Regions from separate parts of the Homo sapiens genome. Here all the other regions are linked to region 3. Evidence: fine-mapped expression QTL. A gene starts in region 3. Each other region holds a variant in brackets. All regions are shown on one strand. Distances are between the middles of the regions.

What was found. PIP is the estimated chance that this variant, and not a neighbour inherited with it, causes the effect.
Region 1: its variant is fine-mapped to the expression of RPLP1 in whole blood (INTERVAL, PIP above 0.99).
Region 2: its variant is fine-mapped to the expression of RPLP1 in whole blood (INTERVAL, PIP 0.99).

Annotation. Positions count from the first base shown.
Region 1 is chr15:69,560,490-69,568,667 of GRCh38, reverse strand. It overlaps DRAIC (downregulated RNA in cancer, inhibitor of cell invasion and migration), which reads right to left and starts at 6,948. Exons shown (of 5, transcript NR_026979.1): 1 at 6,651-6,948; 2 at 5,366-5,552; 3 at 4,864-5,078; 4 at 3,141-3,444. It overlaps LOC124903517 (a long non-coding RNA gene), which reads left to right and starts at 1,759. Exons shown (of 2, transcript XR_007064696.1): 1 at 1,759-2,057; 2 at 2,378-3,709. The variant G/A (reference allele first, on the strand shown) is at 3,835.
Region 2 is chr15:69,329,484-69,337,661 of GRCh38, reverse strand. It overlaps PAQR5 (progestin and adipoQ receptor family member 5), which reads right to left. Exons shown (of 9, transcript NM_017705.4): 2 at 161-321. Among named protein-coding and RNA genes, the nearest start is that of PAQR5, 35 kb to the right of the region's middle. The variant C/T (reference allele first, on the strand shown) is at 4,731.
Region 3 is chr15:69,448,779-69,456,936 of GRCh38, reverse strand. RPLP1 (ribosomal protein lateral stalk subunit P1) reads right to left here and starts at 4,119. Exons shown (of 4, transcript NM_001003.3): 1 at 3,917-4,119; 2 at 3,216-3,290; 3 at 1,650-1,767; 4 at 732-1,509. The coding sequence starts at 3,988. The coding sequence ends at 1,430. LINC02896 (long intergenic non-protein coding RNA 2896) reads left to right here. Exons shown (of 3, transcript XR_932420.2): 3 at 1-917. RefSeq lists enhancers at 3,574-3,683, 3,834-4,083, 4,364-4,413 and a silencer at 3,764-3,813.

The sequences.
Region 1 (8,178 bases), 110 kb before region 3:
CAAAAGCTCCACTGAGACAGTGTATATTTGAGGAAGGTTGTGCAAGGGCCACGGTATCTGTTCCTCTGGGAATTCCAAGTGTGGACTGGGTTCTCTCATCAGAGAACCACATCCCAGAATTAGCCCAGCACCTGCAGAAAGGCCTTTTCTGAGTGAAGGTCTGAGTTAAGTCCTTGATTCTACTCTGCCTCAGGGTAGAGAACCACCAGCGAAGGGGAAGTTCCTGGGACACCCTGAGAACCTGCCATCAGTCACCGTTTATTAAGCACTTAACTCTGGATGGGGGCTGGCGCTCTGTGATTGCCTGACTTTATCCTCATTACATTCAGCCCATAATGTCAATGTCAGACCATTGGCCCTCCCACCCCGCTTCATCAGAGGAGGGAGCTGTGTCCCAGAAGGCAGGGGGGACTTGCTCAAAGTCACAGAGCTGGTATAAATAAACACAGCATGCCAGTCTTCATTTTTTCTTTTCTTTTTTTTTTTTTTTTTTTGAGACAGGATCTTGCTCTGTCGCCCAGGCTGGAGGGCAGTGGTGCAATCTCAGCTCACTGCAACCTCCGCCTCCCGGGTTCAAACGATTCTGCTGCCTCAGCCTCCCAAGTAGCTGGGACTACAGGTGTGTGCCACCACGCCCAGCTGAATTTTTTATTTTTAGTAGAGTCGGGGTTTCCCTACATTGGCCAGGCTGCTATCCAACTCCTGGCCTCAAGTCATCCACCTGCCTCGGCCTCCCAAAGTGCTGGTGAGAGGTGACAGAGTGCTGGCACTCCTCAGAGCCCTCGCTTGCTCTCGGCACCTCCTCTGCCTGGGCTCCAACTTTGGCGGCACTTGAGGAGCACTTCAGCCCACCGCTGCACTGTGGTAGCCCCTTTCTGGGCTGGCCAAGGCCAGAGCCGGCTCCCTCAGCTTGCAGGGAGGTGTGGAGGGAGAGGCACGAGCAGGAACCCGGGCTGCGCGCGGCGCTTGTGGGCCAGCTGGAGTTCCGGGTGGGCGTGGGCTTGGCGGGCCGCACTCGGAGCAGCCAGCTGGCCCTGCCGGCCCCAGGCAATGAAGGACTTAGCACACGGGCCAGCGGCTGCAGAGGGTGTACTGGGTCCCCCAGCAGTGCCAGCCCACAGGCGCTGTGCTCGATTTCTCACCGGGCCTTAGCTGCCTTCCCGCGGGGCAGGGCTGGGGACCTGCAGCCCGCCATGCCTGAGCCTCCCACCTGCTCCATGGGCTCCTATGCAGCCCGAGCCTCCCCGATGAGTGCCGCCCCCTGCTCCACAGCGCCCAGTCCCATCGATCACCCAAGGGCTGAGGAGTGCGAGCGCACTGCGCGGGACTGGCAGGCAGCTCCACCTGCAGCCCTGGTGCGGGATCCACTGGGTGAAGCCAGCTGGGCTCCTGAGTCTGGTGGGGCGGTGGAGAACCTTTATGTCTAGCTCAGGGATTGTAAATACACCAATCGGCACTCTGTATCTAGCTCAAGGTTTGTAAACACACCAGTCAGCACCCTGTGTCTAGCTCAGGGTTTGTGAATGCACCAATTGACACTCTGTATCTAGCTGCTCTGGTGGGGCCTTGGAGAACCTTTGTGTCCATACTCTGTATCTAACTAATCTGATGGGGATGTGGAGAACCTTTATGTCTAGCTCAGGGATTGTAAACGCACCAATCAGCGCCCTGTCCGCACAGACCACTCGGCTCTACCAATCAGCGGGATGTGGGTGGGGCCAGATAAGAGAATAAAAGCAGGCTGCCCGAGCCAGCAGTGGCAACCCGCTCGGGTCCCCTTCCACACTGTGGAAGCTTTGTTCTTTTGCTCTTTGCAATAAATCTTGCTGCTGCTCACTCTTTGGGTCCACACTGCTTTTATGAGCTGTAACACTCACCACAAAAGTCTGCAGCTTCAGTCCTGAAGCCAGCGAGACCACGAGCCCACCAGGAAGAACAAACAAACTCCAGACACGCCACCTTAAGAGCTGTGACACTCACCACGAGGGTCCGCGGCTTCATTCTTGAAGTCAGTTGAGACCGAGAACCCACCAATTCCGGACACACTGGGATTACAGGTGTGAGCCACTGCGCCCAGCCAAGCATGCCATTCTTTAGAAGATGTTCTCTCCTGGCACATCTCAGTTTCTACAAAGGCCCCCAGCCCTTCCTGGAGACCCCTGGGGCGAAGTTCTCTCACCCTTCTTCACATGCCCATAACAACTCACCTCCCTCTCTCTTAGAGCCCCCGTCCTGCCCTTCCTTGAATTCTGGTCATGCTCATGTTTGCCATAGCTCCCCAAGGAAGACAGCCTCTGAGTCAGGTCTGACATTGTCTGTCCTTAAAGAAGGCACTTAACACATATTTGTCAACTGAATTAATAAAAATTTCCCACAGGGCCTTGGAAGAAATTTTGTACCTGTTTGCCTCTGCTGGATGACGCACTCTGAACACAGCTACCTAAAAGTGGAAGGAAGGAGGCCGGGCAGGGTGGCTCACGCCCATAATCCCAGCACCTTGGGAGACTGAGTCAGGTGGATCACTTGAGCTCAGGAGTTTGAGACCAGCCTAGGCAACATGGCGAAATCCTGTCTCTACAAAAAAAATTTAAAACTTAGGCATGGTGGCACGTGCCTGTAGTCCCAGCTACTCAGGAGTCTGAGGTGGGAGGATTGCTTGAGCCTAGGAGGTGGAGGCTGCAGTGAGCCGAAATCACATCACTGCCCTCCAGCCTGAGCAACAGAGCAAGACCCAATCTCAAAAAAAAAAAAAAAAAAAAAAAGGCTAAAAGGAAGGACTGTTTTGAGCTGAGGCAACCCCAAGGACTGGTGACATTCCCTGGGTCTCCCCTGCCAGCCTCGTGTCATACCCCAAGAGAGGCTGGGACACATCTGTGAAACAGGATGCTGAACAGCGGAACACAGCGGACTTGAGCCAGCCTAAGTGGGTTTCTGCTCCTTGCAACAAGAGGCCTGAATAGAAGCCCCTTCTTCAGGGGAGTGGGCATCAGCTCAGAAAGAGGATCCCATGGGAACTGACTTTGCTGGTGACCAAGGCCCTACCACCAGGGCACCCTGCCCATGTATCCCAAGCAGAGGGAGCAGAACCAGCGGTGTAACTACTGTGCTTGACACCCAGGGCAGGTCTTTTTTTAACTCACCGATCTTCCATGCAACAAAATTGTTTTCTGTGAAAAGCAGGAAATGAATAACAACAGCGTAGGTGCGTTGGCTATGTCCGGTGGCATTTCTTCAGAATTTTCATTAATGACACCTGATTTTGGAGGCATTGTATATTTTTAAATACATCCAGATGTTGTTTCAGTTGCTTCCTCTTTGGTTCTTTTTGCTTTTCGTTGTTGAGCGTCACTTAAATTCGTGTCATTTCATGTTGGTACAGGTACTCCACTTCAAATTTCCCAAGAAATTCAGAAGAATTGTGAACAAGTTGCTGGTTTCACAATACTGCAAGACACTGCAAGTTATTCCAAGTTCCTACAGGACAACGATGCACAATTATTTACTTACTTATGTTTAAATATACCTATCAGTTTGACTTTCATCCTTTGGTGACATTCTAATAATTTATGTAAATAATTATTCAGAGACCAATGAGAGGATTTTAATAAGTGCAAAATGTTAGCAGACGGTACAACATTGATAAATCTATGGTCTGTATTTTGTTCTGCCATTTCAAAATAATTAAAAAGTAAGTTTCAATTTAAAAACATTATTGAAATTCAGTAAAATATTTCAAGCATGAACTAAAATATACACTTACTAAACACAAATATTACACCTCACATTTCATACTCTGTTTCATTGTTTTAAATTTTAAACAGAAATAACTCCACC[G/A]GCCACCTAGAATGATCAAATCAGGCAACTCAAGTTACTTTGTTTCATCTTCACAATCACTGTGCTATCATTGTTCATTTTGAATCTACTTTTTAAAAGCAAGAATATTTGATACCAGATACCAGACACAAATTATACCTGAAAAGGATGTCATTTTAGGATTTGTGTCCCACCTAAAGGATACAATTCTGTACCCTGACAATGTTATTCTAGAAATAAATGCCTATGAGTGAGTCTTGTTTCAAGAGCCAACTCTACAACTAGGAGTTCCCCCAAAGTAACTTCCATGTGCAATAAAGTTTTTATTAAAGGATAAGTATTAAAATTGTCCTAAGCAGAAAACCAAACACTGCATGTTCTCACTCATAGGTGGGAATTGAACAATGAGAACACTTGGACACAGGGTGGGGAACATCACACACCAGGGCCTGTCGTGGGGTGGGGGTAGCGGGGAGGGATAGCATTGGGAGATATACCTAATGTAAATGACGAGTTAATGGGTGCAGCACACCAACATGGCACATGAATACATATGTAACAAACCTGCACGTTGTGCACATGTACCCTAGAACTTAAAGTATAATTAAAAAAATAAATAAATAAAAATTTTTAAAAATCTAAAAAAAAAAATTAAATTAAATTAGATAAATAAAATTGTCCTAAGGCCAGGAATGGTAGCTTACACCTGTAATCCCAGCACTTCCGGAGGCAGTGAATTGCTTGAGCCCAGGAGTTTGAGACCAGCCTGGGCAACATGGTGAAACCCTGCCTCTATAAAAAAATACAAAAATTAGCCAAGTATGGCGGCACGCACCTGTAGTCCCAGCTACTCGGTAGACTGAGGTGAGAGGATCGCTTAAGCCTGGGAGGTCGAGGCTGCTGTGAGCCATGATGGTGCCACTGCACTCCAGCTTGGGTGACAGAGTGAGACTCTGTCTCAAAAAAACAAAAACAAAAACTGTCCTAATGTGAAGCTTATATACTTATCATCATCATCAATATCATCAGCATTATGAAGCTCCACAGTACCTCAGCAAGTGTTTACACATTGGGCCAAGGACAGATTTTTCCTGGAGAAAGATTTTACCACTGCCACCATCTTGAAATTCTTCATCGTTTTGGAACACAGAGCCATAGATTTTCATTTCTGCACTCAGCTCTGTTCTGAGACCGGGGCCATAGGGGTTCTTGGAGAGACAGGGCAGATGGAAGAAGTGGAAGGCATCTGCACACTGTAGAGTGCCCTGCAATCATAGAGGGTGATTACTCCTGTCCCTACCTCCCTGGCCCAGCTTCCCACCAGCCAGAACCCTGGCAAAACAGGGAGACCTTTGGCAGTCTCTTAGCCCTCTTCCTTACTAATCCCTGTTCCCTCCTCTCCCCTTATGCCAAATACAACTAGAGGTCACCTCACAGCCAAGCGCCCCTCCCAAAGACACCAACTTCCTTTACCCTGCAACAACCAACCCTCACCCCACTCCCAAAAGGCTCTCTGGCCAGAGGTCTGATCGAGCCCCTTGAGGGTACTCACTTTAAGCCACCCCCATTGCCTGAGTTGTTTTCCTTTTTTACAAATGAAGCTTGTTCTTTTCTGGGTCTCTCCAAGGTGGAGTGTAGGAGGGCAGTGTTTTCCGTAGCCTCTGGCTCGTGCCGCGCTCTCAGACTCTTCAGTTCTCCTCACCCACACGAGCCCAATGAGGTAGGCCTTTTTATTCCATCTTGCAGACAAAGAAACGATTACTCAGGGTTGATAAACACCACCCAAGATCTCATGGGAGGAAGGAACAGAGATGAAAATAAAATGCAAGGCTGTGTAAGTCCAACAAATATGCCACATCCATGTCACCTCTGGGGTCTGATCCAGCCTCTCAACAACCACCGTCACCCCTCAACAGGCAGGTGACAGTGGCGAGATGGCCCAGCCCAGCAACAGGCTCCCCCATTGCAGTGCCATTGCTATGCCAGAGGACACAAACCCCAGACCTTGACTCCTCCTCACAGACCCTGAACAGCTAGAATCTTCTGGCTTCACTGATACTTCCAGCTGCCTGAGCTTTGGCCCGGACAGTCGCCACAGCAAACACAGGTAGGTCTCTGCAGCTGCAGCTGAATGAGCCAGCAAATATTTATCAAGCACTGTGCTAGGAACAGTAGGAGATGGAGTGACTTTACTCAGTGGTCCAGTTTTAAAACACTTTTAGTAATAAATACCCTTAAAAAAAAGAAGGGGAGAGAACATATTTTAAAACCCTATTGCTTTCTTTCCCATCCTGAAAGCCATGAGGTAGACAAAATAGTATCGCTTTACAAGCACAGACTTTGGAGCCAGAGACTTTTGGGTTTGAATTCTGGCAGTGCTGCCACTAGCTACGTGACACTGTGCAAGCCACACTCCTCTCAAAGCCTTAGTTTCCCCTTTACAACACGAGAATGCTTACCCCTGCCCACCTCAGAGGATTCTTTAAAAATGAAATGAGCTAATGTATAACAAAGAGCTTTGTTGACTGTGCAAATGTTAGGTTGTTCTTTCAATAAACATTTATTAAGCATTTACTCTGAGCCAAACCCTGAGTTAGGCATTAGAGCTTCTGAAATGTAAACGACCCGGGTTCATTGGGATTCACCCTTTTTATTTTTTTTTTTTCGATGAAATTCACACAACATAAAATTAACCATTTTAAAGTGAACGATTCTTTGGCATTTAGTCCATTCACGATGCTGCACAACCAACACCTCTCACAAGTTCTAAAACATTTTTTTCCTCATCCCAAAAGAAAAGCCCGTACCCACTGAACATCAGCCTCTTTTGAAGATACCTTTTCTCTCGCTCTGCTGCGTCCTTCTCAGGAGTTGAGTTCACGGGCTTCATAATATCCTAATGTCCCTCTCATCGCCTATGACTCCAAGCCAATTCCCACATCCAACCTCAAGCTTCACAAGTCGAAACCCAGGTTTCTCTGCCAGAGCCGGGGGAAACAGAGCCCCTAGCCTGCCATTTTTAATTACATCAGGGCTGGGTGAGCAGGTAATCGCTGTGCATTTCAGTAAATTACCTCTCATAAAGGGGCCATCATGTTTGCTCATGTGCCCTTCTTTCCTGGAACCAGCTCCCTGTTTGCCAACATTGTATCTTCCCAGCAGCCCATGCGCCTGGTGATCGTCCTTTTAGTCAAGCTGGGGGACAGTCAGGTGCAGGGGGAGGAGGCAGTGTTTGGGCAAATATTGGACTTGGCCACACTTGCTGTTCGTATCAGGAACCCAATTGGTGTTATTGATTGACAGATTCGGGGACCAACTGTTTAGAAAGCTGAGCCCCCTCGGATTGGGCTAGGTGTTTCAACAAACAGCCCTAATGCTGGGCAAACAGGGCTGTTGGAAGAAGTGCCCAGCGTGTTAGCAGAGCAAACCAAGCACTGAGCAAACAGCTTAAAAGAATGTGGCCACCTCCACGTAACCTCAACCGAGGTATTGATCCCACCGGAGGAAAGAGAGGGGCCGAGTGGGGAACAGAGAGATACAAACCCCGGCAGAATGTAAATGTTATCTTTAAGCTGCGGCTGTCACGGCCCTAATGGGCATCTGTTTGGAATTTGTCTTCTTGCAAATCTTTAAATCCAGGTCAGGGCCAGGCACAGAATTTAATAACAACTTTTCAGAGAGATCGGGGCTTGGGACTGATTTCATTCCCCATAAGCCCAACTGGGACTCTTCTGTTCTTCTTAAAGGCAGCTGCCTTGCATGGAAACTTGCTGGGTGCAAGTCCCAAGCTAGAAAGAGATAAATCTTCTGAACACTGGTCATAAGGCTACAGGAGAGAAGAAGGAAATTCAGAAATAAAGGTGCTTTCTCTGACCCCTGAGCTGTCCATACAAGAGAGCTGGTGGAGTGGAAAGAATCCTGGACTCAGAATCAAGAAATCTGGGTCCTGCTGCAGCTGCTGGCTCTGACTGGCTGCCCCTTCTGTCTTCACCTCCCTGACCTTCAACCTCTGTATCTATGAACTGAGGGATGCAGTCCCTGCTGGGCATATTCAGGGTCAGGCCAGACAAGCCCATTCCAAGGTGGGAGCACACTCTGCAGACAGAAAACACTGTCCCAGTTTAAGGAATCGGGATATTTGCTGAGAGACCCTGGGAGATGCCCCTCCTGAGCCTGAGACCTTCTGACATCACCAAGTCGCAATGGAATGGACCATGGCTGTGGTTATCTATTTTTCTAGGTAGGTGACTGTTGGAATTTGGGTGTCCTTTCCCAAAAGCTAGATGGGCAAAGGGAATACATGTTGTTTGCAAATTCCTTGAAAAGTCAAAAAATCATGATTGCTTACTTGCTGTTATTTTTGAG
Region 2 (8,178 bases), 120 kb after region 3:
CTGTTCCATGAAGAATCTCAGATAAAAGTTTTTAAAAGCTGAGCCCAGCCATGGGTTTGTACCCTCAAATACCTATGAGTTGAGCAAAATCCTCTCCTCTTGAGGTCCCAAGATAACCTGGGGTTCCTGGGCCTGTTAGAAAGTGACGTTCTTTACTTACCACAGGTCAGGAACCTTGTACAGGAACTCTGTGTGGACAAGGTATGAGGCCAGATTCCCCAAAGGGCTTTAATTGGCTCTAAAAGTCAACTTTCATCTTTAAAGGAAGCATGCCATTCCAGTCAAATCCTTGGTAAAATGCCCAGTTTCTCCAATGGTGTCCTGTGACAAAAGAAAACAGATTCTTATTGCACTTATGTAATTAACTATACTGCCATAAATTGAGAATACACACAAATGGTTTCCAAATTCTAGAGCAATCAGGTAGAGAGAAACAAATATGCTCCAAAATTTTCCACAGGAGTATATTTTACTCACTTGTTAAAGCTTGCAAATAGCTCTAAAGAAATAAGTAATCTTTACTCTGAAAACAAAAGGATTAGCAATGTTTAACATACCAGCTCTCCACGAGAGTCCTAGAAGTTTCCTTTTTTCCTCTATTCCAATAGTACAATTTTTAAAGTTATCTGAGACCTGCACTCAGAGTCTTGTATCTGATTATAAATTGCCTTTTGAAAAGGACCAAAGCAAGACAAAATGTCTGTGGATGACAAAAGTCTATAGCCACTATTAAAGCTACAATTGACTAGGAATTTTGGTTCTTCCACTTCTGTGGCATACAACAATTTTACATAACAATTATAATTATTAATAATGTACACTAAATCATATCAGAATTATAGAAGTTTCCCATAACTTTTGGAACACATACTAATAACATATTTATACAAATACAGTCCAAAGAAAACCAAACACCATTCTCTCTTTCTTTTGAAAGTTTTCTGTCTATTCTAAAGTCACAATCTCCAGAGTTATTAAGCAGAAATCTGCATTTAAGAGCACCTGTTAAATTTTACAGCTGATTATAAAACCAACTTTTAGGAGGACCAAAATAAGACAACAATCATCTGTGGATGACAAAAACATTATAGGGTAGCCACAGTTAAAGACACGATCGACAAAGAGATTTGTTACCTGTGGCACACAGCCATTTAACATAATTATAATTATTACTGATAACATATACAAAGTCATATTAGAATTTTAGGAGTTTTACATAATTTTGGAACATATGCCAATAATACATTTACACAAATATAGCCCAAAGAAAGCCAAACACCATTTCATACTTGACAATGCTTCCTGTATGATTTTTATGTCAAATAAGCCAAATGTCATTTTTGGACTTTAGAGGACCTGATATCTAAAATATTAGGTTAGAAAGAGATATAATTTATAATTTGATTTTGGAAAGTTTGTCAAATATCAAAGGTTTAAAACACTGGATATCACAAAATAGAATCCCAGGTCACCATAAGTCATTCACTTAGCCAAAATGATAACTCCAAAAAATTTTTTTAAAAAAGAAAGCCTTTACTCTGATAGAGGAGACTTAGCTTTCCAAACAAGACTCAATGAAGATAGCATGAAGCCACCTGAATCTGTCTCCTTTCTCTCTCTCCTCCTTTTTTTTCCTGCCACTTACCCAAAGGAGAAAACAAAACCACTTTCATTATCTTTTAACATTACATAAAAATCGTCTTCAAAAGAGAAAACCAAATTTCAGGCTTGCATTAGTGCATCTTTAATGTTAAAGCTAGTTTTTTAAATAAAATTTTATATCTCGATCCAGTTGTAATTAGTCTGACCATAAGGTAAGATTTTTATAAACTTTTTAGAACTCTTTACAAATTTCCATCCAACAGCAGATCAGTTTTCTAAGAAAACCCTGTTATTCGGACACACAGACCCAGATTCTGGCCCCACATCAGTATGATTTTAATGCTTTAACCTAAGGGTGGCATGCATCTGTAATCCCAGCTACTCGGGAGGCTGAGGTAAGGAGAATGGCTTGAACCTGGGAGGCAGAGGTTGCAGTGAGCCAAGATCGTGCCACTGCACACCAGCCTGGGCGACAGAGTGAGACTCTGTCTCAAAAAAAAAAAAAAAAAAAAAAAAACTGGATGCGGTGGCTCACACCTGTAATCCTAGCACTTTGGGAGGCCGAGGCGGGCAGATCACCTGAGGTGGGGAGTTCGAGACCAGCCTGACCAACATGGAGAAACCCCTTCTCTACTACAAATAAAAAATTAGCCAGGTGTGGTGGTTCATGCCTGTAATCCCAGCTACTTGGGCAGCTGAGGCAGGAGAATCACTTGAACCCAGGAGGCAGAGGTTGTGGTGAGCCGAGATCATGCCATTGCACTCCAGCCTGGGCAACAAGAGCAAAACTCCATTTCAAAAAAAAAAAAAAAAGCTAAAATTTCTTTTAAATCTTTTTTTTTTTGAGACATGGTCTCACTCTGTTGCCCATGCTTGAGCACAATCTTGACTCACTACAACCTCCACCTCCTGGGTTCAAACGATTCTCCTGCCTCAGCCTTCTGAGTAGCTGGGATTACAGGCACCTGCCACAGGCCCGGCTAATTTTTGTATTTTTTCAGTAGAGTTGGGGTTTCACCATGTTGGCCAGGCTGGTCTTGAATTCCTGACCTCAAGGGATCCCCACTCCTCAGCCTCCCAAAATGCTGGGATTACAGGCGTGAGCCACCGCGCCCAGCCAATTTCTTTTAAATCTTAGCCAACTTGTTTATACCCACAGAATTTGTTACAAGATCAACCCTTTACAAACCCCTTTCCCTTTGCTTAAACCTTCAGTTTTGTTCCATTACTCTTTTGGGTTAAGACAATCTTTAAAACCCTCTGAAGTAGACAAAATTACATTCCCTTTAACAAAAGCCATATTCCCATGCCTTCTGATCATCTTTTACCAAAAACACATTCCCTACACACCTAGTATGTAAAACGCATTCTCCAGTGGTCTCAACTACATATTACAATGTTAAATCTTAGCAACTTTTATTTTTAGTGAAAAACCTGGTAAGTAAGCGATTTTAATTATGTACTGGGGTGGAGCCTAGGACATCAATCAGAAATGAAGATAAGGTCTGACTCTTAGCATAGCTGGCGGGCATGGCTCTCCACATGTCCCCAGGCCTTACCTATCATCTAATGCTCCAAAGTAGGGAAATTGAACAATTCTCAAAAGTCAAAGAAACAGTTTGACCTTAAAGCATTTAGCAAATCTGATACCTGACCTTATTTTAGACCAAATGTCTACATTTTCAAGACATTTTATTTTACCAATAATCTTTAAAACTGTCTTTATTTCCCAGGTCGGGTGCAGTGGCTCATGCCTGTTATCCCAGCACTTTGGAAGGCCGAGGTGGGTGGATCACGAGGTCAAGAGCTCGAGACCATCCTGGCTAACATGGTGAAACCCCATCTCTACTAAAAATACAAAAAAATTAGCCCGGCGTGGTGGCGGGCGCCTGTAGCCCCAGCAACTTGGGAGGCTGAGGCAGGAGAATCACTTGAACCCGGGAGGTGGAGGTTGCAGTGAGCCAAGACTGCGCCACTGCCTCCAGTCTGGTGAGAGAGTGAGACTCCATCTCAAAGAAAAAACAAAAAAACCGTCTTTATTTCCAAAAGACTACTAAAGTCATGTGAACAAAAAGGTATTACGGTTTCTATTTTTCTGATAAAATATTTGATTTAAATGCTTATATTTCTAAGCCAATTAACCAGAGCTCTTTTATACAAACATCTCACACACACACACACACAACACATATGAATACAGACAGACAGAAGATTCAGCACTTGTAAAATTTTTCATTTGCCAGTTTCTTAATTGGGTGACTGGCTTTAGGGTGGAGCCCTTGGAGGAGCAGGGCCGGGAAAGCATGCATTTCTAGAGCCAAATAAGCAGCAAATAAGCAGCTGAAGGCAAAGACAGATCCCCAAAATTAAGGGTGCCATTTTATACTGGATCCTGGATCCCCAACAGGAGGGAAATACTGTGGGAGAAGACCGTGCAATGCTTCTACCCTGCATTCCATTCAAGGCAACCCAAAGCCAATCAGCCCATTTTGTAATCGGCCCATCTCTCACAGGAGTCTCATCTCCCAGTGCGGGGTGGGGACGCCTCCTTATCTTCCAGGTGGCCGAGAGCATGCGTCTCTGATCCAAGTGTGCAGAGTCAAGTATCCCTCCACAACTACTATTAGCCACTCCCTAAAGTATATTTCCTACCTAGTTATTACACACCAAAGCTCTCTCATAATAAGTAATTTCTGATACCCCTAAAAATCAAAACTGTCAGATAACACAGTGAAAAACAGAACAGAGCCTTTGATTCTGAGAGGGATCTATCCGCTTTTAATTCCTGGGGTTTCATGAGGAAAACAGAGCCTTTTTTCCAAAACGGGGTTCGTGGTGCCTCCTCTGTTTTTCCCAAGGAGTCCCAGGCTACCAGAAGTTATCTTAGGGCCTCTCATGTGTGTATTAAGATTGGCAAGATAAAAAAAAATGGAAAAAAATAATTCAGTCAACTGAGAAGAAAAAACCTTTTCCCAGGAAAAAAACAAGTCCCAAAAAGAGGAAAACATAAAGGCCTTTTAAATATACCTATTGCTTGTTTATCCACTTTTAATTAAGCTGACTTTTAACCATAGCGCTCTTTAAAAAATATCCTTTTAAATTTTTTATTACCCGACTTTAACACTAAG[C/T]GACCAGTATTTTTGGCTTTTAAATTCTACCACAGTTAACTTCCCACATGAAATTAATAAGTTTTAGCTAAGGTTATAACTTAACCATGGACACATTCATGTCTCAAGGAGAAGGTAAGCCGTTTCTTTTTTTTTTTTTTTTTTTTTTTTTTACAAGATTTAGAATCTCCCCCAGGGTAGTTTAGAGAAAGGAAAACTCAAGACAGGAAATCAGAAGCTATCCATGGGTTGGCCGGGGTGGGGGTGGGGTGGGGAACCTCAATAAATGGCAAAGTTTCATAAATAAAACTCAGAAAGGAATCATTCCAGAAGCCAAGACTAAAACTCAGGCTGCCATTGTCAAAAAGCAAAGCCTCAGCTACTGAGTTACAGCATTGAGCAGTTTCTATTCCTCTCCCCAGAAGGAGCCTAGAGAAGCCAATTTCAAGCTTGCACAGGCTTTTAACTGCTCAAGAAAAAATTTTTAGGACTATGACATGAACCCCAAAATTCCTGTCCTCTGGATGGCAGAAACCAAGAGAAAGTATCCCCACATGGTCAAAAGGTTAAGCTCTTAAGGACACAAAGCAAGACAGAGAAATTTCATCCAGTATTGGTTTCAGGAACCTGTAGCAAGGTTTGTAACTGACCAGCCTGCCAAGCTGGCTTGAAAAGCGGGCTTATAGGGGTCCTAAACCCACATTCTATCCTGTGATACCCCTCTCTCCATTACAGAACAAAGAAAAACAAATTCTTAGCACAAAGTACAGCAGATTTGCTACCGCCTAAGACTAGTCTCACAAATCCTTTTTTCTATTAATCAAACCCTTGCAGAGGAGACCAATAGTTTACTGTTTTACCCAGACAGAGAAAGAGAGACCAGAATCTTCGCTGGTAAGAATTTCTCACCCTTTTTGCTGGCATACCCGGTTTCTGGGTTCTCTTTCTCTGCAGCTTCCAGAAGAAAGAGTGGCTTCTCATGACCCTGCTCGCTTGTGCTATAGCTGTGAGGTTCAAGCCACTTACAAGAGAAAAAATAAACCACTTTACTGTTTTATGGAACCATAGGCAAGATTCTCAATTTGCAAGATGCTAACCAACAGGTTGCATGGGGAACCAAATTAACATTTTCCATCCCAGCAAAATATACACAACAGAACAGACATTAGTCACCTCATTCAGCACCCAATATAAGTCTGGTAAAGCTCAAACTTTTTCCCGTTGCTCCCTGTTTCTGATCCACTCCAGGTGGGGAGGGGAGGGATGACCTCCAAATGGTAATTCACAATGGAGTCTCTGGGCAAGGCGAAGACCAGATAGTCACCCCGAGAGACAGGCCTGTTGAGCTTTCTTTAGGGCTTACCAAATGTAACCAGGCAAATAAGGAGGGATCTCTGAGTTAGACCTGCTGGACTTCCATTAGCAACCTCTCCTGAGATCCCTTCCACATACACAGACACACACAAAGACGAGATAGACAGAAGGCCTTCTAAATCAGATCCCTAACCAAGAACTCCAAGAGTATCCCTTCCAAACTATCCTCCTATTCTCCGTCTGAGAAACTGCCTCGAAATCTTCCAGATTGAGGATAAGTCTCTCAAACCAAGACTCTTCTTACTAGTTAGAAAGAGCCAACTGAGACCCCGCAGGAGCTGAACAGACACCCTGCAATGGGGCTACAGACACAAGACACCCCATGGTGGAGTTACAGACACCACACCATAGGGCTACAGAACCAGTGGCGAGAAGGAAGGAGGCATTGGCAGCACCTAGGTTACTCACCAATCCAGACACCCCACAATGGGGCTACAGACAGACACCCCATCATAGGCTATACAGACACCCTGTGATAGGGCTACAGTTAAGGAACGTCGCCCCAGGACTATTTCTCCATTGCAATTAGATCGATGTACACTGGGTTGGCAGTGCCCCACCAGTACAGAGAGTCCCTGAGTCAGCCCCTAGTCCAAGAGAACTAGGTGGCTGCTTGGGCTGGCTTCTGGATCCATCACTGGAGTGGGGCCACCGAACCATGGGCAGGTAGCCACAAGGGCAATCCTGGATGAGCCACCAAATTTGTAAGTGCCCAAGGGGTTCACCTTGCCTGCTGCCTAGACAAAGCCGATTCATCAAGACAGGGGAATTGCAATAGAGAAAGAGTAATTCACGCAGAGCCTGCTGTGTGGGAGACTGGAGTTTTATCATTACTCAAATAAGTCTCCCCAAGCATTCCTGGAGCAGAGTTTTTAAGGATAACTTGGTTGGTGGTTGGGGGGTGGGTAACCAATGAGCCAGGAGTGCTGGTCAGGGATGAAATCATAGGGAGTCGAAGTTGTCTTCTTGCACTGACTCAGTTCCTGGGAGGGGGCCACAAGATCAGAGGAGCCAGTTCATTGATCTGGGTGGTGCCTGCTGATCCACCGAGTGCAGGGTCTGCAAAATATCCCAAGCACTGATCTTAAGAGCAGTCTAGGGAGGGTCAGAATCTTGTGGCCTCCAACTGCATGACTCCTAAACCATAATTTCTAATTCTGTGGCTAATGTTAATCTAGTCCCCAGGCAAGAAGGAGGTCTCCTTTGGGAAAGAGCTGTTACCATTTTTGTTTAAACCATAAACTACAAACCCAGTTTCTCCCAAAGTAAGTTCAGCCTATGCCCAGGAATGAACAAAGACAGCTTGGGGTTAGAAGCAAGATGGAGTCAGTTAAGTTAGATCTCTTTCACGGTCTCAGTCATAATTTTGCACAGGTGGTTTCACTAACATTCCCTGGTGTATTGTAACAAGTACCCTGGACTGCCTAAGCTTGGAGAATGTTCTATGAAGATGGGGAGAGGCACATAGAGCTTGGGATTTTGGGTGACCAAGGTCAGGTCTTCTCTCTACCATCTCCTAGGTATGAATTTGGCTGGGCTTGTTCCAAATGACTTTCATTTTTGTCATCTGTGAAATAAAAACATTAATACCTACCTGGCCAGGGCTATGGGGGAGCTAAAATGAAATAATAATAGATGTGAACAAACTTTATTAGCTACAAAACCCTGAATCAATGCCAGTGGTATTTACCACTATGGCTACTATTATGGCTACTATTACTACAAAGAACACATTCAGGAGAGTGAGCCATCAGCGGCAAAAACTTTTAGGATGATTTAAAAACCGAAAATTGAGGCTGTTTGCAGTGGTTCATTCCTATACTCCTAGCACCTTGGGAGGCCAAGGCAGGCAGATTGCCTGAGCTCAGGAGTTCAAGACCAGCCTGGACAACATGATGAAACCCTGTCTCTACTAAAATACAAAATATTAGCCGGGTGTGGTGGCATACACCTGTAGTCCCAGCCACTCAGGAAACTGAGGCACAAGAATTGCTTGAACCTGGGAGGCAGAGGTTGCAGTGAGCCAAGATTGCACCACTGCACTGGTAACAATCAGACAGAGCGAGGTGACAGAGCAAGGCTCTCTCTCCAAAAA
Region 3 (8,158 bases):
CCTTTGCGTGTCACGTTTACGTTTTGGGTTTTGGGTAAGGGATGCTCAAGCCATGTATTAAAAACACAAAACTAGCCAGGCATGGTGGCTCATACTTGCAATCTCCCAGCACTTCGGGAGGTCAAGGCGTGCAGATCACTTAACACCAGGAGATTGAGGTTTTCCTACAAAAAATTAGCCAGGCATGGTGGCATGCCTGTAGTCCCAGCTACTTGAGGGTGGCTGAGGTGGGATGACCGATTTGAGCCTGGGAGTTTGAAGCTGCAGTAAGCCATGGCTGCACCACTGCACTCCAGCCTGGGCCACAGCAAAAGAACCCCTCTCAAAAAACTTAAAACATAAAACTCTAATACTGACACCTACATACTCCTACCCATTGTCAACTCCACCTTGCTCAAGGTCCTAAATTGTTCACTATCCCGTCTTTGGTATTTATTACTCTTAGCAGATGCATATATTTAATGTCTTTTTTGAGCTTATGAGAAGCCCCAAGTGTTGCTTTGAACATTCCCAGGCATGTATCCTATGTCCACATGTAGTTTCTCTTGAGTAATGCCTCAAAGTAGAACTGCCATTTTCCCCAAGTAGTTGTAGTAACTTACACAAATGGTCTTTTTCACATTGACACGAGGAGTCCCGGCTAGAAGTCACGCTTTTCATCACTGAATGTCTTCATCTACTAAATGCTAATGGAGGTAAGGATAAGACTCATTCATGTGCCTGGCATGTCATTAGCTGCTCTGAACACACAATACCCACGGTTTATTATATAAATCCAAGCCTGAAAAGTTGAAAATTCCATTCATGGTATTATTAATTGGCAAACAAAAAAAGCTCTTAGTTTTTGGAACACAGGTTTGAATCTTTTTTTTTTTCCACTTTGTGTAACTGGAGACCTTAATAAACTATTAAGTAAACTTTCTGCACTCCTTCAGTGTTACCATAAAACTCCCAAACATTTGGTGAGACATTACATAGCTAAGTCTTGTTTTTTTACAACCTTGGGATGTAGCAGTCAACATTCAGCATACGTCAAAGTTCGTTCTTAGGCAGGGTTGTATAGGGTAAATACCCAGGAGGCTTTCTAAAGCTGGTCTGTATTACCCTCCACCCCCAGTGTAGGGGACACACCTTATAATCATCAAGTTTACACAGGTAACCTGGACAAAGCATCTGCTCTGATCCTTCCTCCTGCCACCCCAGTGCAGTTTTCAACACTGTACCATGAGGTGCCTTCTTGTTAGCATCAGGATTGTCTAAATCTCACATCCGGCAATGGTGGCAGGGAAAATCCAGCCTGTGTCATGGCAGAATAGGCTGAAAGCCAACATTACAAAACAGACCATTTTTGCAGAGCACATTCCAAAACTATGGACAAGACCAACAGCAGTAAAGTTCAGCTTTTTATTGAACATGTTATAAAAGAGGTTTAGTCAAAAAGACCAAAGCCCATGTCATCATCAGACTCCTCGGATTCTTCTTTCTTTGCTTCCACTTTCTTCTCCTCAGCTAGAAAAAAAAAGTCAATCAGGTGTTAGGATTTCCATACTTCATATACTTGTGAAAAATTAATGGCAATTTTGTCTATAATACTATTTTTTAAAAAATCTCTACACTCCTCCCAATACTAAAAACTCCATGTTTCCTACCTGGAGCAGCAGCAGTGGAGGGGGCAGGACCTCCTGCTGGTGCAGCACCAGCTGCTGGAGCAGGTCCACCGGCCCCTACATTGCAGATGAGGCTCCCAATGTTGACGTTGGCCAGGGCCTGCAATACATGTGCATGCATAGGTAAACGCCCAGTTCTGTCCTTGTTAAGCACTCACGCAGCCAAAAACGAAAAGTATCCCCCATTCCAGGTTACAGTGATCAACCCCTAACACTATATACAGTGAGTTCCACATCCATGGATTCAACAGTGGAAAAATAAGCATGTGTACCAAACATGTAGACTTCTAAAGTATACAGGAGGATGTGCATAGGTTATATGCAAATACATTTATATAAGAGATGGAACATCCTGGGATTTTGTTATTAGTGGAAGGTCCTGGAACCAATACCCCAGACACTGGCTTTTCTTTGCTAACAGCCAAGACTTAGGTTACAGGGCAACGCACTACTGTTCAGCTTTGAATCTGATAATTACATTCCTATATGTTAAGAACCTCCTGAGGCAGCTGATTTCCCTCCTTTTACAAATAATATGTTGGTAAAAAAAAAATCCAAACTTCCTGAAACACTCAAATGAATATTCTTTCCACAGTTCCATGTCTCCTCTTAACAGTGAATTCAAATTTTCAGTCTACTAAACAAATATAGGACTTCAAAAGGGGCTTGTTAAATATGACATAGGTACAATGTTTTCAATCTTTCAAAACTCTTTAGAGGTCACAACCCTGGAGTTAGATGCTATTAGCTTCACTTGACAGAGATTAAGTAACCTGTACAATGGAAAATAGCCAGTGCAAGCTCCATGACCAGGAACCTCTTTATTAGTCTTTTATATCCCAACACACAGTACCTACTGTGTCAATGAAGTCCGCTAAACCCAAATGTCCATCAAACCATAGGTTTAATGCAAGAATTTACTGAAAGAATTTGCTTGCGGGCCGGGAGCGGTGGCTCAAGCCTGTAATCTCAGCACTTTGGGAGGCAGAGGCGGGGGGATCACGAGGTCAGGAGATCGAGACCATCCTGGCTAACATGGTGAAACCCCGTCACTACTAAACACACACACAAAAATTAGCCAGGCATGGTGGCGCACGCCTGTAGTCCCAGCTGCTCGGGAGGCTGAGGCAGGATAATGGCGTGAACCCGGGAGGCGGAGCTTGCAGTGAGCTGAGATCGCACCACTGCACTCCAGCCTGGGTGACTCCGTCTCAAGAAAAAAAAAAGAAAAAGAAAAAGAATTTGCTTGCAACTTAACATGCGTAGTACCTATCTCCCGAGTGACCCTTTTTGGGAATAAATGACCTGATTCACATTTTTTTTAACCATGGTTTCAGAGCAAAAGGGAAACCAGAGTCTGATAAGGAAACGTAAGACTTGACAAGCTGAAATCTTATTAGCTCCTAGAGATATACATGCAACGAAAAACACCTAGGAGATCCAGCGGCATGTGGGGCGTTATGGCACCGCTGGGGGTACTTTAGCATGTACAACTGCCCTCGTAAATCAGCAGGCCTTACCACAATCACTTTGCCACCATCACCTTACCTTTGCAAACAAGCCAGGCCAAAAAGGCTCAACATTTACACCGGCTGCTTTAATGAGGGCATTGATCTTATCCTCCTACAACAAATAAAAACGTCAATCCATCAAAACGTAGCGTATGTAATATCTCCAAAATGCTGCACGTCACTCAATAAGTGTACATAACATGTTTAACCAGCTCAAATATTCTATCACAAGCAAAAGAGATGTGTGCCAGGCGCCCTGCAATGAGGCGAGCCCATCACTGCTGTTTCACGGGCTGGGACTTGCCTGAGTCACGCGGCTATTTTTAAGTTACAAGACCTGGGAGGTGGAGCCGAGCTCGGGCGCCTTCCTCCACGACCGGGGGAATTCAAGGCAATTACACCGAAAGAGGTCCGAGTAAGTGTCCCTGAGAGAGACGAGGCACGGGTCAGGGTGCCCAAGCACTGCGGAAGAGCTTTTCTACACGAAGGCTCTTGGAGCCGGAGCGCCCAGCCTCAAGCGCACTCCATGCCCGCTGGGCCCGCACGTGGTCCCGGGGGCCCAGGACCTGCCCGGAGAGAGGCCCCAGCCCCGAGGAGCGCCCGCCCTATGCGGCCTGTGTTCGCGGCCTGGCCCCGGCCGGAAGTGCTCAGTCGAACGGCCTGGAGCCGGGAACCGCATGGAGAGCCGAAAGTCACCGCCCACAGGCAGCCCGGCCGCCGGCCCGCGCCCGCACTCACCGTGACTGTCACCTCATCGTCGTGCAGAATGAGGGCCGAGTAGATGCAGGCGAGCTCGGAGACAGAGGCCATGGCGCGGGCGAGTGTAGGGCTGGCGCTGCCGGACGCGGTGCTAGTCGCCGGATGAAGTGAGGGCCTCACCCCAACGCAGCCTTAGCTTCCTCGGAAGGACCGAGCACCTTGGCGGCAGCTGAGGAAAGGGGCTCTCGCGCCTATACGCAGCCTCTTATGTGTCCACGCGGACCAATCGGCGCCCGCACCGGGCGGAAGAGGCGGACCCAGGACCCACTGAAGGCGCCTGCGCACTGCGCCTGATTGGTTCTTACTGTTGAGAAAGTTTCTCAGCGCCTGCAAATACGGTCCCACTTTATTTGGGTAAATTATAGGACCTGAGAACGTTAAAAACACTTTTAGGTTAGGGTTGCCTAGGTATTCGGACTTCGCCTCCGTTGGTTCCATGAGTTGCTTGACTTGGCAGGAGCTCCGCTGTGGCCCTGGTGACATTGTTCGTAATCTCCTGGTTAGGTCGCGGCCTTCCCAGCCGGCGCTGACCCTGAGAGTAAGGGCTGCGTCCCAGCTTGGAGGCCCCTGCTTAGCGCAGGACCTTGGTTGAGATAGGTAGATGTAGGAGGATGAGAGAAACTAACAGCGTTATGCTAGCAGAAGCCGTAGAGCGCTTACTATGTCCCAGGCACTGAGCCACATTCTGCAAGGATTCACGTAATCCTCACACACCAGGAGTTGGATGTTATCTCCATCTTGCATATGGCAAAATTAAGTCTTAGAGCTGGTAAACTAGCCCAAGATTATGTAGTTACCGCGCAGTGGAGCGTGGATTTGGAATCTAGAAGCCTAACTTAGACCCGGTAGCTAACTCAAGATTGCATAGTTCCGCGCGGTGGAGCGTGGAGTTGGAATCCAGAAGCCTAACTTAGACCTGGTAACTAACCGAAGATTGCATAGTGCCGCGCGGTGAGCGTGGAGGTGGAATCCAGAAGTCTAACTTCACTGCCTAGTGCTTGGGGGAAGGAGGGATTATGGGTAAGCTGTCTACAACCCGTTATTTGTTATCTAAACCCAATTTAAATTCCTACCTTCAAAAATGGTCATCTTTGCATTCCTCGTGGAATTTGCTTAGTTTACCGGAAAGTTAGTTCTATGTATATATATCTTTTTTTTTGGTGGGGGGGGGGCACCTTCTTTGTTTAGTCCATCCCATTATTTAATAATCATCTCTGAAGAAACATTTCTGTTGGAATCCACCGATCTAGAGTCCCACTTGGGTCAATCTTAACTACAAACATAAATATTTTCACATCCGGAATTTTTTAAAAAAGCATTTATAAAGCTATCAAACTTTTAAAAAATAAAGCTGTTGAGTTTTCATCCAAATCTAAGCAGCCATTATAGTGGAATTTTGGTCAAGAAAGGTTAAAGCTATTAAAAAATCCAAACATTTCCAAAGCTACAATGAGTCAGTCCAAAATACTGTTTGTCCAGCAGTGTACATAAAAAACTGATCTGCCGGGTGCGGTGGCTCACGCCTGCAATCCCAACCCTTTGGGAGGCTGAGGCGGGTGGATAGCCTGAGGTCAGCAGTTCGAGACCAGCCTGGCCAACATAGTGAAACCTTGTCTCTATTAAAAATACAAAAAATTTAGCTGGGCGTGGTGGCGGGCACCTGTAATCCCAGCTACTAGGGCGGCTGAAGCAGGAGAATCGCTTGAACCCAGGAGGCGGAGGTTGCATTGCGCTGAGATTGTGCCATTGCACTCCGGCTTGGGCAACAAGAGCAAAACTCCCTCTCAAAAAAACAAAACTGATCTGGTTGACAAGTGGCACTTTGTGGTCATTGAGGAAATAATCTTCTTCTCCATCTATATATTATAGATAATACTTTTTACAGGGTATCAAACAGTAAGCACTAACCACAGCTATTCAAGAGAAGTAGTTAAGCAAAACATCAGTACTCATGCATTTCCTTTTGTGTTGATGAAGGACTTAGTGGATTCAACAGTTACTTCAGACAAATTCCACTGCCCCATATTCTCCTATCGTAGTAAAAATTTCCTATTAATATTTTGAAAATACTATGCAATAAGCCATTAAAAAAAATTTTTTTTTTCTGAGACGGAGTTTCACTCTTGTTCCCCAGGCTGGAGTGCAATGGCACGATCTCGGCTCACTGCAACTTCCACCTCCCAGGTTCAAGCGATTCTCCTGCCACAGCCTCCAGAGTAACTGAGATTATAGGCGTGTGCCACCATGCCCAGCTAATTTTTTGTATTTTTAGTAGAAACAGGGTTTCACCATGTTGGCCAGGCTGGTCTCGAACTCCTAACCTCAGGTGATTCACCCACCTTGGCCTCCCAAAGTGCTGGGATTACAGGGGTGAACCACTGTGCCCGGCTAAATTTTTTTTTTTTAAGTGGGCTGGGGCAGGTCATGGTGGCTCATGCCTGTAATCCAAACACTTTTGGGAGGCCAAGGCGGGAGGATCGCTTGAGCCCAGGAGTTCAAGACCAGCCTGGGGCAACATAGTGAGACCCAGTCTCTATTAATTTTTTGTTTGTTTGTTTTTGAGACAGGGTCTCACTCCATTGCCCAGGCTGGGGCACAGTGGTGCCATCACAACTCACTGCAACCACTGCCTCCCTGCAACCACTGCCTCCCAGGCTCAGGCAATCCTCCCACCTCAGCCTCCCCAGTAGGTGGGACTACAGGTGCGTGCCACCACACCTGGCTAATTTTTAAACTTTTTGTAGGGATGGGATTTCACCATGTTGCTCAGGCTGGTCTTGAACTCCTGACCTCAAGCCATCCTGTTTCAGCCTCTCAAAGTACTGGGATTACAGTTGTGAGCCACCATGCCCGGGCTGTCTCTATTATTTTAAATAATAATTTAAAAAGCAGGCTGGGTGCTGTGGCTCATGCCTGTAATTCTAGCACTTTGGGAGGCCAAGTCGGGAGGATTGCTTGAGGCCAGGAGTTTGAGACCAGACAAGGCCACAGAGCAAGGCCCCATCTCTACAAAAAATAAAAAATTAGCCAGGTGTGCTGGCATTTGCCTGTAGTTGCAGCTACTCAAGAGGCTGAGGTGAGAGGATTGCTTGAGCCTGGGAGGTTGAGACTACAGTGAGCTGTGATCATGTCATTGCACTCCATTTTGGGTGACAGAATGAGACCCCATCTCAAAAAAGAAAGAAAAAAGCCAGCCTAGGCAACATAGCAAGACACCAGCTCTACAAAAATATTTTTAAAAATTTAATTAGCTGGGCATGGTGGTGAGCACCTGTAGTCCCAGCTTCTTGGGAGGCTGAGGCAGGAGGATCACATGAATCCAGGAGTTTGAGGTTATAGTGAGCCATGATTGCACCACTGCATTTCAGCCTGGGCAACAGAGCAAGACCCTGTTTCTAAAAAAAAAACTTTAAGAAGAAAATCAAGAAATAAATTCTGTATCTACTGCAATAGCAATTTAACCTTTAGTGTCCTGAAGCGTTCTAAAAACACACATATAGGCCAGGTGCAGTGGCTCACGCCTGTAATCCCAGTACTTTGGGAAGCTGAGGAGGGCGGATCACCTGAGGAGTTCAAGACCAGCCTGACCAACATGGAGAAACCCCGTCTCTACTAAAAATACAAAATTAGCTGGGCCTGGTGGCTCATGCTTTTAATCCCAGCTACTGGGGAGGCTGAGGCAGGAGAATCGCTTGAACCCAGGAGGCGGAGGTTGCGGTGAGCCGAGATTGCGCCATTGCACTCAAGCCTGGGCAAGAGTGAAAATCCATCCCTCCCCTCAAAAACACACACACACACACATATATGACATTGTTTACTACTATACTGTGAGTGACTAGTGCATTTTGTCTTCTCCCTTAACTTTTGAGTTGGCTTTTGGCAAGGACTGATATCACACTTTTATTATTAATAACAAAAGATTAAACTATCATTTTAGTTAAAAAAAAAAAAAAGTGGCCGGGCACAGTGGCTCACACCTGTAATCCCAGCACTATGGGAGGCCGAGGCAGGTGGCTGAGGTTGGGAGTTCAAAACCAGTCTGACCAACATTAAGAAACCATCTCTACTAAAAATACAAAATTAGCTGGGCGTAGTGGCGCATGCCTGTAATCCCAGCTACTCGGAGGCTAAGGCAGAGGAATTGCCTGAACCCAGGAGACAGAGTTTGCGGTGAGCCAAAATCGTGCCATTGCACTCCAGCCTAGGCAACAAGAGCGAAAC